Homo sapiens: one gene and its partner. The protein of the gene in region 2 binds, or shares a complex with, the protein of the main gene of each other region. Each region holds a gene or a part of one and is shown on either strand. Other genes may lie near its edges.

Evidence for each region.
Region 1: the proteins of ULBP2 (region 2) and PIGT are in contact, whole or in part, in a cryo-EM structure (PDB 8IMY), measured with the Homo sapiens proteins. Residues at the interface, in NP_079493.1 of Homo sapiens: Leu222, Arg223, Ala224, Thr225, Ala226, Leu229, Ile230, Cys233, Ile237, Phe241, Ile242, Gly245; in NP_057021.2 of Homo sapiens: Trp453, Ser523, Pro525, Tyr526, Asn527, Cys530, Leu531, Thr534, Ala537, Val538, Gly541, Ser542, Asn545, Arg549.

What each region holds. Positions count from the first base shown.
Region 1 is NC_000020.11:45,411,141-45,419,478, forward strand, and holds the start of PIGT (GPI-anchor transamidase component PIGT isoform 1 precursor), read left to right. Parts: upstream 1-5,000; 5' UTR 5,001-5,016; coding exon 5,017-5,203; exon of another isoform or gene 5,204-5,376; coding exon 5,377-5,554; exon of another isoform or gene 5,555-5,677; intron 5,678-7,073; exon of another isoform or gene 7,074-7,243; intron 7,244-7,711; coding exon 7,712-7,839; intron 7,840-8,154; coding exon 8,155-8,255; intron 8,256-8,332; exon of another isoform or gene 8,333-8,338. UniProt on the Homo sapiens protein: Component of the glycosylphosphatidylinositol-anchor (GPI-anchor) transamidase (GPI-T) complex that catalyzes the formation of the linkage between a proprotein and a GPI-anchor and participates in GPI anchored protein biosynthesis.
Region 2 is NC_000006.12:149,937,077-149,945,281, reverse strand, and holds the start of ULBP2 (UL16-binding protein 2 preproprotein), read right to left. Parts: upstream 3,269-8,205; 5' UTR 3,210-3,268; coding exon 3,125-3,209; intron 1-3,124. UniProt on the Homo sapiens protein: Binds and activates the KLRK1/NKG2D receptor, mediating natural killer cell cytotoxicity.

The DNA of each region.
Region 1 (8,338 bases), on a different chromosome or scaffold from region 2:
TTCAGTTTGACAGCTAGTAAAAGATCATGACTTAAGATATAAAGTTATTTCCTCATATAGAAGTTAAAAAGTACAGGTCTACATGAAAGCTCCATCGTTACTCAGCACTGGGCTCCTTTTTTGCTCTTTTGCACATGGTTTGCATTCTTAGCAATATCTCACATCTAAGGTGGCTGTCAAAGCCCCAGCCATCATGACCTTGAGACTGGCAGAAAGCAGGAGAGGAAATGGGGGATGGGCAAAGAGGGCACAGCCAGTCTATTCCCATTTAGGAAGAAATTTTTGGAAGTTCTTTTTTTTTCCCCCAAGATGAAGTCACACTCTTTCGCCCAGGCTGGAGTGCAATGGCACGATCTCGGCACACTGCAACCTCCGCCTCCCAGGTTCAAGCAATTCTCACATCTCAGCCTCCCGAGTAGCTGGGACTACAGGCGCACACCACCATGCCAGGCTAATTTTTGTATTTTTAGTAGAGACGGGATTTCACCATATTGGTCAAGCTAGTCTCGAACTCCTGACCTCAGGTGATCCACCCACCTTGGCCTCCCGAAGTGCTGGAATTACAGGCGTGAGCCACTGCACCTGGCCAACCATCCTATAGTCTTCCAGCAGAGTCTCTCAAATCAGTGTCTCCAGATAGACGTGAACTCCTTGGCATGTCAAGTGAGGGGGTACTCCAGCCATTCTGGCTCCTTACATCCTTTTTGGAACAGAGGGCTAGTCACCCAGATGGGGAGTTTCAGAAAGGACCAGGTTTGAGAAGAAGGCCATAAATTTGGTTTGGGACATGTTGAGTTTGAGATGTCTTTGAGACATCCAAGAGGATATGTTGAGTAGGCCCTTGCACCCATGCATGTGGAATTTAGATAAGAGGATTGAGCTGGAAAAAGAAAACGATCAGTTCTCAGTGTATAGGTGGTAAGTGAAGCCATGGGTGCGAATGACAGGAGAGAATGCCCAGGGAGAGAATGCTGAATGAAAGAAGAGGTTATAGGACCCAGTCTTAAGGAACATCAACTCATTTCTCACATTCAAAAAAAAAAAAAAAAAATCAGTCCACCTCCCTTCATACATTGAACATCACCCATGGGATCAGTGACCTTCAGCCAAAATCCTAAAGCTTTTTGTGCCACCCAAGGTTGAGTGACAAGGCTGCAGTCTTCCTATTGTCCCATCCTGCTCTCACCCCTGCAGGAGGCCAGTGTAAGTATCTGTTCCTAAGTGTTTTTCCTAACACTAGTGAGAAACCTGTGGGAACTCCAGGGAAGTAGGAGTGTCCACCAGCCATTCCCTGTCTCTAGGAAGCTTGTGGAGTGAATACCTTCTGTGCAAAAGCCTCTAGGTCCAAGTTGAGATCATCCACTGAGCTGGGCCAGGGCCCAGTCCTCTATTAACTTTTGGGGTTTTTCTGGGTTGCTTATGACCTTGCTGCACATAGAAGACATAATCTCTGTCCTCTTGTGGCTTCTCTCCTTCCTTCCTTTAGAGTAGCAAGGTTCTATCTACCTCCTGTCTGACTGTGGCTGAGCCATCTCTTGGGCTGCGGCCCATGATCCCAATAGCTTTGCTGTGCAGGGCTTCTCAGCTCCCAGGATCACCCCCCTTCCTTCCATGGTGAACGATGAGAAGCTAGACTGGCTTGGTTGCCGTCAACATGTCAATAAATCTCTTAGTAGCCCAGGCACATGATGCGAAGATTGTGGGGAGCCTGCCTTGAGAGAGGGATTTACAGCCCTCTAGAGAAGTAGAATTGTTTCTGAGCCTATGGGGAGCCTTCAGTTTGGCTGCTATGAGCCCCAGCCCTGCCTGGAAAAGTCTAGTGTCAGCTGAGACCCCAGGACTACTTCCTAGTTGGGACAATAACCTTTTCTCCTGCCGAACCACAGGGGCTTGGCTGGCCTTCAGAACCATCATCTCCAGCTGACTGTTTTTTGTTTCTTTGTTTTTTTAAAAAAACTTATGGGGGTTTCAAACGTACAACAAATATAGAAAGAAAAATATCCCAGGTTCTCATCATACAGCTTAAAAAATCATCAAAATAGTACCAAGATTGTATCATCTACCCACCACATATTTTTAGTGGAAAGACATTTATGATAACTCTTGAAAGAAAGAGTAGACTATAAAACACCATATTCAATATGGTCACTTTTTAAAAAAATGATAATCTTCAGATTCACCATTTGATTATAGTGTTGCATTAAAGTTAAACCGTGGTTTATGGCAGCCCAGAGCCTAGCTGTCTGGTTTTTGAGGCCACACAGTGCCTTTGGAGGTGGGAGGAAGATCTGGAGCCAACTCTAAGTCAAGGAGCCCAGCTTTCAGTCTCCAAGCTACAGCGTGGCTTCTGATATTTGCACGGACTTGTCATAGGGTGGACATCCTGACACACTTCGGAAAGGAGGCACCACAGCTCAGAAAAAGTTTCCTTAGAAGGCTTACACTGTAGCAACCCCAGGAGTGCACAGAACTTGACACTGAACAGCATGGCAGAGTAGGGAAAATACAGAACTGTGCTATGATGTCATCTTGTTTGTTCATTCATTCACACATTACTGAGCACCTACTATGTGACAGTCACCTTGCTTAGGCAACAGAAATACTAAGGTGACCATGAGCTCTTCCAGGAGCAGACACAGACACAGGTAATGGAAACAATGTGATGAGAGATGTAGCAGAAGTACATGAAGCCTGTAGACCACTAGAGGAGGAGAAGGTAAGTCTTCACTAGAGGTGGCTGGGTCCTGAATGATGGAGATGGGCAATTTCAAAAGGAAAACAGAGAAGTACAAAATAGTCATAATGATGGCAGCTACCTTTAAAAAAGTATTATTTTGAGGTTTGATAGTGTAGACTATAGTCCTAGCTCCATCACTCATTGTAATCTTTATTATCTTAGTTTATGTACTTCTTAATAATAACACTCAAGCAACCCTATCACTTAGGCACTATTATCTACATTTACATATTAGTGCCTAGGTGACAGGGTTGAGTGTTACTATTAAGCACTTGCTACATTCCATATCCTACATGTACATAATTTCTCATCTTAACAACAACCTTGAAAGTAGGTTTCTTCATTATACAAATGAAGAAAAGTGACACTTGGGTTGATCATGCTCATATGGATTAAAGGCTGGCATAGGGATTTGGACTCCTGTCTTTCTGACATCTAAGCCCATGGCCTTCCTAATATTTCGTGTCTAATGGGGCAGGAACACTGAATGCAGGCAGAATGAAGGCATAATGAGATAAAGACATCTTTCTGACATTTCCTTTCTGGAAATGTCTGGTTGGTTGGCGCATATCTTGGCAGACCTGCCTGACACCAAATTGGCTCTTTCTAGAAGTGTGGTCATGAGTGTCACCAAGAGACTGTTCATGAAATCCTTCATGAATGTGTTTCCCATAGGGCAGGTGGAAAAACTAAAGCATGACTTTAACTTTGGAACTCCGAAAAAGTCAATAAAAAGACAAGCCAGTAAACAAAGGGGTGAGGGTGCAGAAGACTTTAACAGACCTTTCACAAAAAAATAAAAATTAAATTAAAAAATAAATGGCAAATAAGCACATGAACAGATGCTTAACATTTTTAGTTACCAGGGAAATGCAAATTAAAACCACAATGAGCAAACACTACATACATACCCAAGTGGTCAAAACTAAAAAGTACAAAAAATTAGAAACTTCAAATGCTGACCAGGATGTGGTACAATGGAGACTCATAGTTTATGGAAACATAAAATGATACATTTTGGAGAAAGGTCTGACAGTTTCTTATAAAATTAAACATACACCTGCTCTCTGACCCAGCAATTCCACTCTTAAATACCTGGCCAAAGGATATGAGAAATATACGTCTACAAAGGAGCTTGCACAGACAGCAGCCTTGTTAATAATAACCAAAAACTTTAAAAGTGCCCATCAAGAGTTGAATGGATAAATTAATAATACTACGCAGTAATAAAAAGAATTGTGGATACATGCAAGAACATGGATGATTCTCAAAAACATTCTTCCCATGAGAAAAAAAAAAGCCTTACACAGTATACATACTATATGATTTCATTTATATTTAGTTCTGGAACAGATTAATCTATTGTGGGAAAAAATCAGGGTACTAACTGCCTCTGGAAGGTGATAGAGGAGCAGGGATTGACTAGGAAAGGGTATTGCTAATTTTCTGGGGTTTTAGGAATGTTCTGTATCATGATAGGAGTTCGGGTTACATAGGTGTGTGCATTTGTCAAAACTCAGTGAATGTGTACTTTGGATTTGTGCATTTCACTGTATGTGAATTTTACATCAAAATGCAATCGAATACTGAACTCTAGTTAATTATATGCATGCTTAACTACTTAAAGGAAAGTGTACTAATGTCTGCAATTTACTTTGAAGTGCACCAAAACACAAGATGGAATGATGGATGTATAGACAAATATGTGGTAAAGTACAAGTATAGTATAATGTAAATAGTAGAATCTAGGTGGTGGAAAATAGGTTTATTGTAACAGGTGCTCATTCTTTCAATTTTGTTTGAACATTTTCGTAATAAAAGAACCACTTATTTGGGGGTTTTGCAGCAAATGGAGACACTAGAAGCTAAGAGGGGCAGGAGGTTCCTCTTACTTTGGGAAATGCAAATTAAAACCACAATGGTTTTCCCAAAAGTAATTGATCTTTTTCAGTCAATGTTTCCTCAACTATCAAATGGGTAAAATGGCAGTGAAGGAGCTTCATATTATTAAGCATTTCCTGGTGGGTGGAATACGCCATGAACTAGGTGCGGCCTCAAGCTGGTTACTCGCCCTGCCTACTCCCTCTCGTGTCCTCCCAGTACCCCCTTAGACCCACCAGCTCTGAGGGAATCTTCGCGACCTGCGCAGGCGGTCGCTCTGATAACCGCATCCCGGTTTCCGGGACGACAGCGGAAGTCACTTCTCACACGCCTTTCTTATTGGATACCGGCTTTTCATGGGGCCGAGCGCCGCTGGGTAGGCGGAAGTAGCCGCAGGCATGGCGGCGGCTATGCCGCTTGCTCTGCTCGTCCTGTTGCTCCTGGGGCCCGGCGGCTGGTGCCTTGCAGAACCCCCACGCGACAGCCTGCGGGAGGAACTTGTCATCACCCCGCTGCCTTCCGGGGACGTAGCCGCCACATTCCAGTTCCGCACGCGCTGGGATTCGGAGCTTCAGCGGGAAGGAGGTGAGGGCGCGAGATCTGACCAGGGAAAGATTTCCGTAGTGCCTGCTGGCTGGCCGGCCGTGGGATGAAGGCAAACTTTGGGGGCGGGGCCTAATTCCTGGGTAGAGTTCGGGATCCTGGGTGTGGACCCCGACGAGGTGGGGATCGTCACTCACCTGCTCCCGTTTCCCCAGTGTCCCATTACAGGCTCTTTCCCAAAGCCCTGGGGCAGCTGATCTCCAAGTATTCTCTACGGGAGCTGCACCTGTCATTCACACAAGGCTTTTGGAGGACCCGATACTGGGGGCCACCCTTCCTGCAGGCCCCATCAGGTGCAGAGCTGTGGGTCTGGTTCCAAGACACTGTCACTGAGTGAGTGCACACCTTGGGCCCTGTTGCAGGCCATGGAGGGAATGTGGCTGGGAGAGTGTTGTCATCCTGCCACTGCTCTTGGGGACAGCACTTCCAGTAGGCAGCGATTCCATGGGGGTAGAGCTGGCATTGGAAGTAAGAAATGTTACCACAGATGAATAAACTTCCCAATCCTAAAACTTTCAGACCTGAGGTAGCACATGCATATCCCTGGAGAGGCAAATAGCAAACAATTAATGCTTATTTGGAGGTAAGGCAGTAGAAAACTGGCAACTGGATAACCTTTTAAAAGGCATTCATTAATATTTTTTAAATGATAATAAATACCACGAAAGCCAACCATAACATATCTGTGGGTTACAACTGGCCAACAGGATGCTACATCACAGTGTTAGAGGAACTGCTTTTGTTTGGGAGGGGGCAGGTCTAGTTACTGTGCCTACTACAAACCGCTATTTCCCAGTGGCTGCTGTGGCTATCCTGTTTAGAATAGAACCTTTCTGTGCAGTGGTTGCAAACAGGTCTACATGGGCCACACAGGTAAGGAATGAATAAAGGTATTTTTAAAATTGACAAACACAGGAATGAGAAATATATCTCATTTTCCTCTTAATCCCACTATAAGAAATCAATAGTGCAAGTATGATATAACAAGTTTTAGGGCAATAAAAAGGAGCAGCAGGAATTGTGGCAGGCTAGAGAGTTTGTGTGACATTCTAACGAGGACAGCTCTGCCACTCAGCTTCTATGGATTGTTGCCATGTGGGAATAGAGGCCTAATGTGGTCAGAGTCAAATGTTTCTAAAAATTTTTTGTAGAAACAAGGTCTCACTATATTGCCCAGGCTGGTCTCGAACTCCTGGGTTCAAGCGATCCTCCTGCCTCAGCCTCCCAAAGTGTTGGGATTACAGGCAAGAGCCACCACACCTGGCCTCATTTTTCAAGAGATACCAGAAATCTGGAATTTAATGTGAAAATTGGCAAATTCAAATATCAGCAAGTAATTTAAAAATTTTTTGAGTGCTGTGCGGGTCAATGTTGTGCATACCAAATGAAGCATGTTTATGGTTTGAGTAGAGCTTTCCGGCTTCAAGTTTGCCATTTTTATTTGAGGCTTAAGGATTGGAGCAGTTGAAAAGCTCTGAACATAGAATTATCAAAAGCTCCTGGACAACACTAAGGAATAAGGAATAAGCAGTAACTCCCCAGCTTGCCAAGACTTTCTCTCTTGCCTCAACTCTGGCTCCCCTACCCTTTCCTGTCTACTCTGCTGTCACTGTCTTCCCTCAGCCCGTAATTGCCTGAAATGTGGAGCAAATGCTTAGAATTCTTTCTAGTGCTTATTAAGTTTTATGCTTTCTCTATTACTGAGAGCAAATCTCTTTTGATATTTCTCCAAGAAAAGAACATTAATTTAATTTGATGTTTTTATGAAATCCTAGAACAGTTGTTTTTCCCATGTTCAGTGAGCTTTTTTGGATATAAGACTTCTCACCATGATAGTAGAATCAGGACTTACCTTTATTCCCAGAGTATACACAGGGTAGTATGCATTGTTTTGCCCAGCCCAGCACATTCAAGGAAGATCAGTGAGCTCATTTCAGCTCTGATACATGAGGCGCTTTCCATGGTGTCAGGGGAAGTACATAGATGACCCAGACTGGTCCTTGTCCTCAAGTTGCTTACAGCCTAGTTAGGGAGAAAAGGTGGTCAGGACACGATGCTGCTGCCACCTAGCCATCTCCCAGGAGGGACCTAGTAAGATGCTTGGATGGTCAGAACCGTGACTGCACAGAGGAGACTGTGCTTAAGGAGGGCAGGAAAGGCTTCGTGGAGGGGAGGTAAGCACTGGAGCCGGATCATGAAGGTAGGCAGAAAGAAGTTAGCAAAGGCTTGCAAGGAAGGAAGAATCACCTGAGCAGAGACCCATGGGGATGCAGAGATGTCCAGAGGAGAGTGAGGAAGAAGGGGCTGAGTAGGATGAGACCCAGCAAGTGGGCTGGCTGGGGGCAGCAATGTTCCAGCTCCATCAACTGGCCCGTCTAATAGTTAAGAATACAGCCTCCTCCTATCATAGGTTTAGCAGCCAGCTGTGGACTTTGAAAGAGGGAGCAGAGGTAGCCCCAGGACAGTGAGTGGATTTGTGTCTCTATCCAGTGTGGATAAATCTTGGAAGGAGCTCAGTAATGTCCTCTCAGGGATCTTCTGCGCCTCTCTCAACTTCATCGACTCCACCAACACAGTCACTCCCACTGCCTCCTTCAAACCCCTGGGTCTGGCCAATGGTGAGATAACCCCTACAGCCCTTTCCTTCTTCCTCTTACCTCCTGCCCAAACCTTTGCCTCCTTTTCCCTCAGTTTCCTGCTTCCTCAGCCTGGGCTAGATCCTAAGTCCCCTGTGTGTGCAGGCCCCCAATACTGTGCCATCTCTGCATGCCTTTTCCCAAGGAGAGAAGGGAGTCCTACTCCCAGTTGGGACTGTCCAGACTGTGGTGCTAGAGGTGGTGTGGGGAGCAGGAGGGTCATTCCCATCTCTGGAATGTGGATCCCGAGGGGTCAGAGCCCAAGGCCCACCCCAGACAGACCTCTGTCTCCCTCAGACACTGACCACTACTTTCTGCGCTATGCTGTGCTGCCGCGGGAGGTGGTCTGCACCGAAAACCTCACCCCCTGGAAGAAGCTCTTGCCCTGTAGTTCCAAGGTGAGGCCGCAGAGCCTGGCAGCCGGGGGCGGGGGGTGTATAGAGAACCTGCGCCCCATGCCAAGTGCTCCATACAGGGCTTC
Region 2 (8,205 bases):
GTGGGGAGGAAAAGACCCCTAGTTAGCCCCCCTCCACGCTGTGTCAATAAGAGGATGCCTCTGGCAGGCTGGGCTGGCCCAGGAAGGAGTGCCCCCTCCAGAACTGTGGTGTCTACAAGTTTAAGGCGAGTGCTCGCCCCTTGCATGAGGACAAGGAGGAGGAGGAGGAGGAAGTCTCTGTCTGCTGAGAAACCACATGTCCCCAGACATGTCCCACTGCCCCTCTGCCCACATCAGTCAACACGTGACCTTGCTAGAAAGGTGCCAGGCCTCTCTAGCAAGAGAGGAGGAAGGGCCTGGATGGCAGAGGATCTTCAGCAGTAGCCCACGTGGACTGCGGGAGGTGGGAGAGGGTGTGGGTCCACCCCTGTGGATGCTGGTGCTGGTTGAACAGAGTGAGGATGGAACCCCGTTGGATAAAGAAGAGTTAATTATCATGGCCACAGGATTTAACATGTTGGCAAAGCCCCTGGTGATGGCATGCATCTGCTATGAGGAGGCCTTCCTGAAACCTTGGACAAAGAGATGGTCCACACAGCAAGAAATGGAAAATCTGAAAGTCTAAGGCAGGTAGTGGAGGGAGAGATCACAGGCTCAGAGAAGTGCCCATGCCAGAGGGGTCTAAGTGTGAAAATCCAGAACAATGTCCATCCACTGTGCTTATGGGAAACCTGGAGGACTCCTGTTTACCCAGCATATAAAGAAGGCCCCATGAGAAGGCACCAGAATGGAATGAAGCTTAGGGATGCCTATTGCTGAAGGCCAGGGTTGGGGGTAGGAGATGCTGTTCCTGAAATCTGCTCCCAGAGTAATGGGATGAACAATTCTGAAATTCCAAATTCCAGGTGGAGGCTGTCAACTGTCAGGAGCAAGGAGGGTGCAATGATGGAAATGATTAGAGAAGTCACAATGCCAGCTGGGGACCTCAGTTATACAAAGTTATGCCCATGGCTCATAGAACAAAGGGGTCCAAGGTCCAAAAGAGATGCAAACCCACCCCAGATACTGCTGGATTTAAATAATTACAAGAAACAGAGATAAACCAAATCAGGAGGCTGAAAGTAGCCAGTCCATCAAGAACGAGGCTGCTTTGCCTAATTTGCAGAATGAAGCCACTTCTCAGACCCTGAACCCATGACTAGAAGAAGACACCAGTTTCTAGTGAGGAAGGACCCTTTAACCCTGCAGCCAGGACAGTGAGTCCTTGTGGCCTTCTCCAAAGATATTTATGGCCAGTAGAGTTTGCTGTGAAGGGCAATTTTGTAAACATGTAAAGGTGTGCAGGGAATATATTCTCCATTGTAACTACTCAACTCTGCTGTTGAAGTTCAAAAGCAGCCATAGACAATCCATGCATGATGAGCGAGGCTGGACCTACCTTAAGTGCCCAATGACCCAAGACCCCCTAAGACCCTAGAGGTACATGTGGTCACAATGTCTAATTGGAGAATCACAACAGAGATTCCATGTGAATATTCAGAGACAAGGCAATGCCACTCACAGCAAGGAAATCGCAACATTAAGCAGTGGCTCCTGTAGAGTACTGCACCTTGGCAGAGATGGGGCCTTTTGCCATGCATATAAAGAAGGCCCATGACAAGGCACCAGAATGGAATGAAGCTTAGGGATGCCTATTGCTGAAGGCCTCAGAGCTGCCCATTACTGGTGGGCTCCTCACCCTCTAGGTCATTAGGAAGTTAGGCCCAGCAGTGAGAAGACGCAGGTGGTTCTTCTGGGATGGGCAGGAGCAGGGCCACCGGGAACCAAGAAGCTGCACAAGCAGTTGGACCCGATCCCCAGGACACCACGTGGCTGCACCCCCTCACCCTCAGCTCACACCTGAGGCTTCAGGGAGGGTACCTGATGGTCCCCGTGGATGCCACTCAGCACAAAGGAGGGGAGAATAAGCCCCCAACTATGGGACCCCCACTCCCATCACATCCACACCACCCAGAAGCCACAGACAAGGTAGGACCACCTTCTACTCTCCAACTGACATCAGAGACATCACTTGGAGATGACACCATAGGGGATGGGGCACTATTCACTGGGACATTGTAATCCCCTGATCTGGGATCAGCAACCTAGGACAGGGTCCAAATCTGGTCCCCCCTATTTGAAGGTTGCCATTGCCTGCTGTTGCTCTACAAAGGGACAGGACTGGACACTGAGACGGAGAACCCACGGCCTGCAAAGATCACAGGGCATCCTTCCTCCCTTTCTAGAAAGAGTTTGCTGACCCCTGTCTACACAGTGACTATTCTCTATGACGCTGACACCCCCGTAGGAAGAACAGGCGGTCTGGGCCCCAAGGGCAGAAGTGGGTGCCTCTACTCACCAGAGTTCCCAGGGTCATCCTGGAGGAAATGGTGCTTCCCATCCCCCCTGCACAGGTTCTGAGGGGAGCTTGGGGTGTGTTTGCTGGGGTGTGTCCTCAGGCAAGAGGCAGAAGGTGCGACGTGGTGTAGGAGGTGGTGAGGTCCCCTTCATGGATGGGGAGACCTCTGGGGTGACCAGCTGGGCTGAGGTGGGCAGTAAGAGGACGTGACCTGGGTGGTGGCAGTGGATGGTGAGGGGAGGGGTGGCGGTTGTCTGCTGAGCCCCTGGGTGCAGGTGAGTGTCTACAGGAAAGTGCAGGGAAAAATTCAAGGGCACGCAGCCCTGGGGGCGCTGGAGGGTTTGTGTGGTGGAGAGCGGGTGAGAGCAGAGCAGGCCTGTGGCTGGTGGGGGTGTCTGTGATCGCGTCCCTGTGGAATCCCGCTTCACCCCTGTCCTGTCCCCAGCTCCGGTTCCGGGGGCTCTGGTTTTTCCTTCCCGAGGGCGGGTGGGACTGCCAGGCTGCACCAGGGATCCCCGCCCCACCTCGCTCTCTGCAGCCCTCCGGCCCCTCCACCCTCCTGCCAGCCTCCTTTCCACCCCGCTCCTTTTCGCCTCTTCCCGGGCAAGAAGCAGCCTCGGGGACTGCACCCAGCAGGAAGGAGCCGCCGACCGGAACTGAACGGGGGCGCAGTTAGGGGAGATCTCCCCCGTCCTTCTAGAAGCCTCCCCTCCTCTGAAACCCGCGGCAGTTCACAGCCCTCCAGGCTTGGTCCCCGCCCGGCTTAGGCTCCATCCACGAACTCACCGGCTCGCCCAGCCCGGGACCAGCCGGACAGCAGGAGCAGAAGCGGGAGGCACAGAAGGATCTTGGTAGCGGCGGCTGCTGCCATTAAGGACCCAGAGCGCTAGGGATGAGAGACTTGATGGAAGGAGAGCCTGGAAGATGAATCACCTCAAGGTTTTAAAGCCTCCCTATGTACGGGCGCGCCCCCCGTTTCCCGCTGTCATAGCGTCAAGCGGGTCATAGCGTCACGCGGCTAGAAATATGATTGGCTGCCCTGACGGTGTCCCTCCCCTTCCCGGGCGTCCCTCCCCTTTGTCCCAACCCCCTTCGGGTTGGTGTCTGGGTGTCCGCCCGGCTCCTGCCAAGACACGGTTCCTTCCACGACAGACTCATTTAATCATCACAACATTTTTTTATTGAAGGTGAAGAAACTTGCAGAGGAATATTCAGCGGCGGCGGCGTCTCCCTGTCCCCGCCTGGGTCCGCGACGCTCTCCCTCCCTCCGCCTGCGCCGCGAGGTCCCTGGCTTATCATGCTCTGGGCGCAGCCACGGGCCTGATCGCGTCCCCTCCACTACTGCGCCAGTTCCCAGTGGACGTGATTACAGTCCGGGCTAGGTTTTATTATTTATTTATTTATTTATTTATTTATTTAGAGACGGAGTTTCGCTCTTGTTGCCCAGGCTGGAGTGCAGTGGCGTGATCTCGGCTCACCGCAATCGCCGCTTCCCGGGTTCAAGGGATTCTCTGGCCTCAGCTTCCGGAGTAGCTGGGATTACAGACGCCCTCCACCACGCCCGGCGAATTGTTTGTATTTTTGGTAGAGATGGGGTTTCATCTTGTTGGCCAGGCTGGTCTCAAACTCATGACCTTAGGTGATCCACCCGTCTCGGCCTCCCAAAGTGCTGGGATTACAGGCGTTAGCCACCGCGCCTGGCCCGGGCTAGGTTTTATTACAGGAGCAGCAGGCAGGGTTCCAGAGGTTTAAAACAACATATTGTGCACTAAACAACTGGTCAAGATGGTAAATTTTATCTTCTATGTTTTTACCAAAATTAAACAGCTTTAAAAATATATATTAAAAAATTATGTCTTGTTCCTGCTCTGCCCAATGCAGATTGGCCAAAAGAGTCTACTTATTAAAATCGAGGACAACATGGAGGACCCCGTTCCTAAAATCTCAACCTGTGACACACTTGCTGATTTAGAAAGCTCCTCAGAGAGATGGGCCCTGAGCTCCCAGTTCAGCAGCCTCCCTCGCCCAGGTCCACGGATGGCACAGGGGGCTCAGCAGAGCAGGTTCAAGTGAAAGTTCCTGGTGGTTCCCCACTGTTAGTGCATTCTGCTGGCCTCTTCGCCCTGGGCAAAGGGCCAGCCACCCTTCAAAGCTAGGCACAAATGCCCGGTCCCATGCGTGTCCCTCATGTTCCCACAATACAGAACACCCTCCTGCTCGCTGAGACCTGGGTCCACAGTGAGTGCATCCAGATCTCCCTGTGTGACAACTGCTCACACAATTTAATTTGTGTGTGTAAGCATGTGTGACAGACTCTTACTCTGTCACCAGTCTGGAGTGCAGTGGCACGATCATAATTCACTGAATCCTCAACCTCCTGGGCTCAAGGCTTACTCCCTACTCAATATTGGAGAGTGTGGGGCAAGATAGTCTGAGCCACTAGCTGAGCCGTCCTCTTGTTACTGTTTCCTATGCCCTGGCAGATGCCTCAGTAGTATTCACTCCTGGATTTACCAAGCCCTGTGTTAGACTGGTCCAGGGGCTGAGTGGGTCTTGGCTGTGAGTGCAACTGGGGTGAGTTATTCTGCCAGGATTGGGAACTGTGTTACTCAGGAAACTTTTCTCATCACCCACCCCAATCCTGTCCCAGATGGGAGGAGCAGTGAGTGCTGTGTCCAGGCTCCCTGTCTTCCCAGTGCTCCCAGCATCACATGAGCTCCTCCCCAGATGGTGTGGGGTCTGGGCTCTCCATGTTCACCATGCTCCCACCATTGGCTCCCCATTTCACTGCTCTCCCAGGATCATCCCAGCCCCTCCAGGGTCACTGCCTGACCAGGTGGGGGTTGGGTGAAGAGGCAGAGGTCAGGGCAAGACCCCTGGTCCATTCTGACTTTAGGTTCCTCTCTGAAACGCGACTGCATTCCACATCCTGTTCCTCTGGCAACCTCAGTTGGGATCACCTGTAGGGCAGTGTAGAATCCTGGTGGGTGATGACCAATTCCTGCCACCGTGGCTTTTCAAGTATATCGATTTTTCCTAAAATGGATAAAGAGACTGGCAATAAGTTATGGAAATACTGTTTTCCTTACTAACAGTAGATACGTGTTTATGTATCAATTCTGGTTTTTAAAACAAATATAAACCCATAGGCACTCTGCTGAACACAGATTCTATCTCAAAATAACACACTTTGAAGATCTTGCAATACCTGCACATACAGATTTTTTCCTTTTTATCTCTGCACATTACATAGAATGACTGCATCACAACAAAAGTAACCAGTGTCTGTGTCTGAAGATCCAGACGGTCTCCAGTGACTTTTAGAGAAGCGAAATGCTGCAGAAACTGTGCTTGCATGAATCACAATTTCATTGTGTAGAATAGATTTCCAGACACAGAATTGCTGTGCGAAGTAATGCACCTTTAAAGCATCTCATGTCATAGGATGGCAATGCTGGCGACACTCTTGTCTGTGATTGTGATGACCCAGCTTGGGCAGAGGATGGTGAAACATCCACCGTAGAGGGAGGGGAAACTGGTACAGGCTTCCTGAAGGACAGGGTGACAGGGTTCATCAAGGGTCAAAAATATCCGCGTCTGAATTGAGAATATGTATTTATATTCGTTTGAAACGGCATAAAGACTCCCTGGAAAGATGAGAAGAATCAAATAAACTTTCCTCCCTGGCGTGTGGCCAATGAGAGTGGACGCAGGCAGGGGCGGGGGAGCCTTTCACACATGACTTTTCAGGGTTTTGATTCTGAAACAGGTGAAAATGTGGAGGTGAAGTAGTAAGTAAGAGTGGGGCCGAGAGTCCCAGGGACGGTCACACGGTGGGCCCGCCTGATCTGTTGGGGGCCACTAGGGTCCGGGGAGGGGAACCCGGGCAGCTGCGTGCGGGGCTGCTGCAGTGACGAGGCACCGGTTCTAGATATTTACCCAACGGTGTTGTCACAAAGGGGATATTATAGGTGATTTCTGATTTCAACCGCAGATGACTTTCGGAGACAGTTCGCATATGCGGTTTCAGTTTTCACCCTGCTGCGTCCTCTCCGGGTTCTGCGCGCTCCTCCCAGGACGCCCGCTTCGCCCGAGCTCCGGACCCGGGTCCTGCCCGGTTGAGACCGCCGAGTGGGTGCCACGCTGCCCGCCGATGCTCCCGGGCCTCCGGGTCCACAGCCTCCGGACAAAACGGCCTTTCGAAGACCTGGGAGGACTCGCCGGTCGCGACAAGGAACCGTGGCAGGAGACAGGAAATGCGGGGCCTGGTGGGGTGAAGAGCACGAGGTTCCTCCTTCATCCTCGCGGCGACTTTGCCACCGGCTCAGTGTGGAGACGTCACAGTCCCGCTCGGATCCCTGGGGATCCGACAGTGTGGCCCCCACGAGGACCCCCATCCTCCTTGCCCTGGGGCTGCTGCGGGAGGGCGCCCATGGCGCACTAGGTCCTGAGTGCCCAGGATCCAACAGGGGCTTCCCGTTGTCGCCTCCCCGACCCCGCCGCTCGCGGTCCAGGGCTCCTGGTTTCTCCACTGGGCTGGGGGCCCCGAGCATGGACGTCTTGAGGCAGAGAAAACCTTGGGATGGTTGGAAATGAAGGACGGGAGGGAGAACCAGAGAAAGGGAGAGGAAGGAAGCAGGTAGGGCCAGAGAACAAAGAGAAACCTCCGCCAGGAAAATGGGAAGAGGATGACACAGGAACAGCCCTACACTCCACCAACTCTCAGTCTCCTGCTCTCTGCCTTGTAAGGAACGCAGGCCCCACCCCCTCCAGCCTCACAGTGTTTGGGGTCACCCATTCCAGCGGGGTGAGGCGTCCCCTTGTGGGTGCTGTTGGCATTTCCCTGAGGTCTGTGGACACTGAGCACCTTTTCCTGGGCTCACTGCCATTTGCATTCTTCTTCCGATGCCAGTGGGCAACCGGTGGTCCCCAAACTCTGATGAGACCTCGACCCCAGCCGGTGTCGGGCTCTTGACACCGCCTGGGGAAATGAATTCTAGGACCAGTAGGAAAATAGAGAAAGGACGGAGATTTTTTTGTAAAAGGGAAAGTACACACTCATGTAAAGGGAATGCAGGGGAACTCAAGAGAGAGGCAGGTGCAAGGGGGTTTAGGGCTGCCACCTTTCTGGGTTTCTTTAACAAGGGGTGGAATATTCATGAAAATTCCTAAAAGAAGGTGGAGACTGCTCAGAACTGTGGTGCCACCCATTTTTACACCAAATATTGGTGTTCTCTGAATTGCCAAGACGCTGGTGTGTGTGCGTTTAGTATGTCAATTAGTGTATAATAGGGTCCTAGGTGAAACCGAGGCCAAACCCAGGGCCATGTTGGGTCCACTCATTCTTAGCCAGCCTGGTCCATACCCTGTCTTTTAGGGTCTTATCAGCCCAGAGCCTCTGCAGATATTTCAACAGATTCCTTTTGCTAGTCACCTGAAACTGCTGCCTAAAGTTTTTTTCTTCTTTTGTGACCACACTGTATTATACCTGTCTCACTTTGGAGAAACATCTTTTTGAATTCTTTGCATATATTTAAATTGGGTTATTTTGCTTTATAATGTTGGGTTGCAAGAGTTCTTTATGTATTCAGGATACCAGTCCCTTACTAGATATACGATTTTCAAATGCTTTCTCTCATTCTATAAGGATTTTTTTAACCTAAATGGAGTCCTTTTTGAAGCACAAAAGTTTTACATTTGCATGAAATGAAATTAAACTACCTTTTATTTTGTCATTTATGCTACTGGCATACAGTACTTAAGAAGCATTAGCCAAATCCGGGGTCACAAAAATTTACTGCTCTGCTTTCTTCTGAGACTTTCATAGTTTCATGTCTTAGGTGAACATCTGCCATTCATCTAGAACT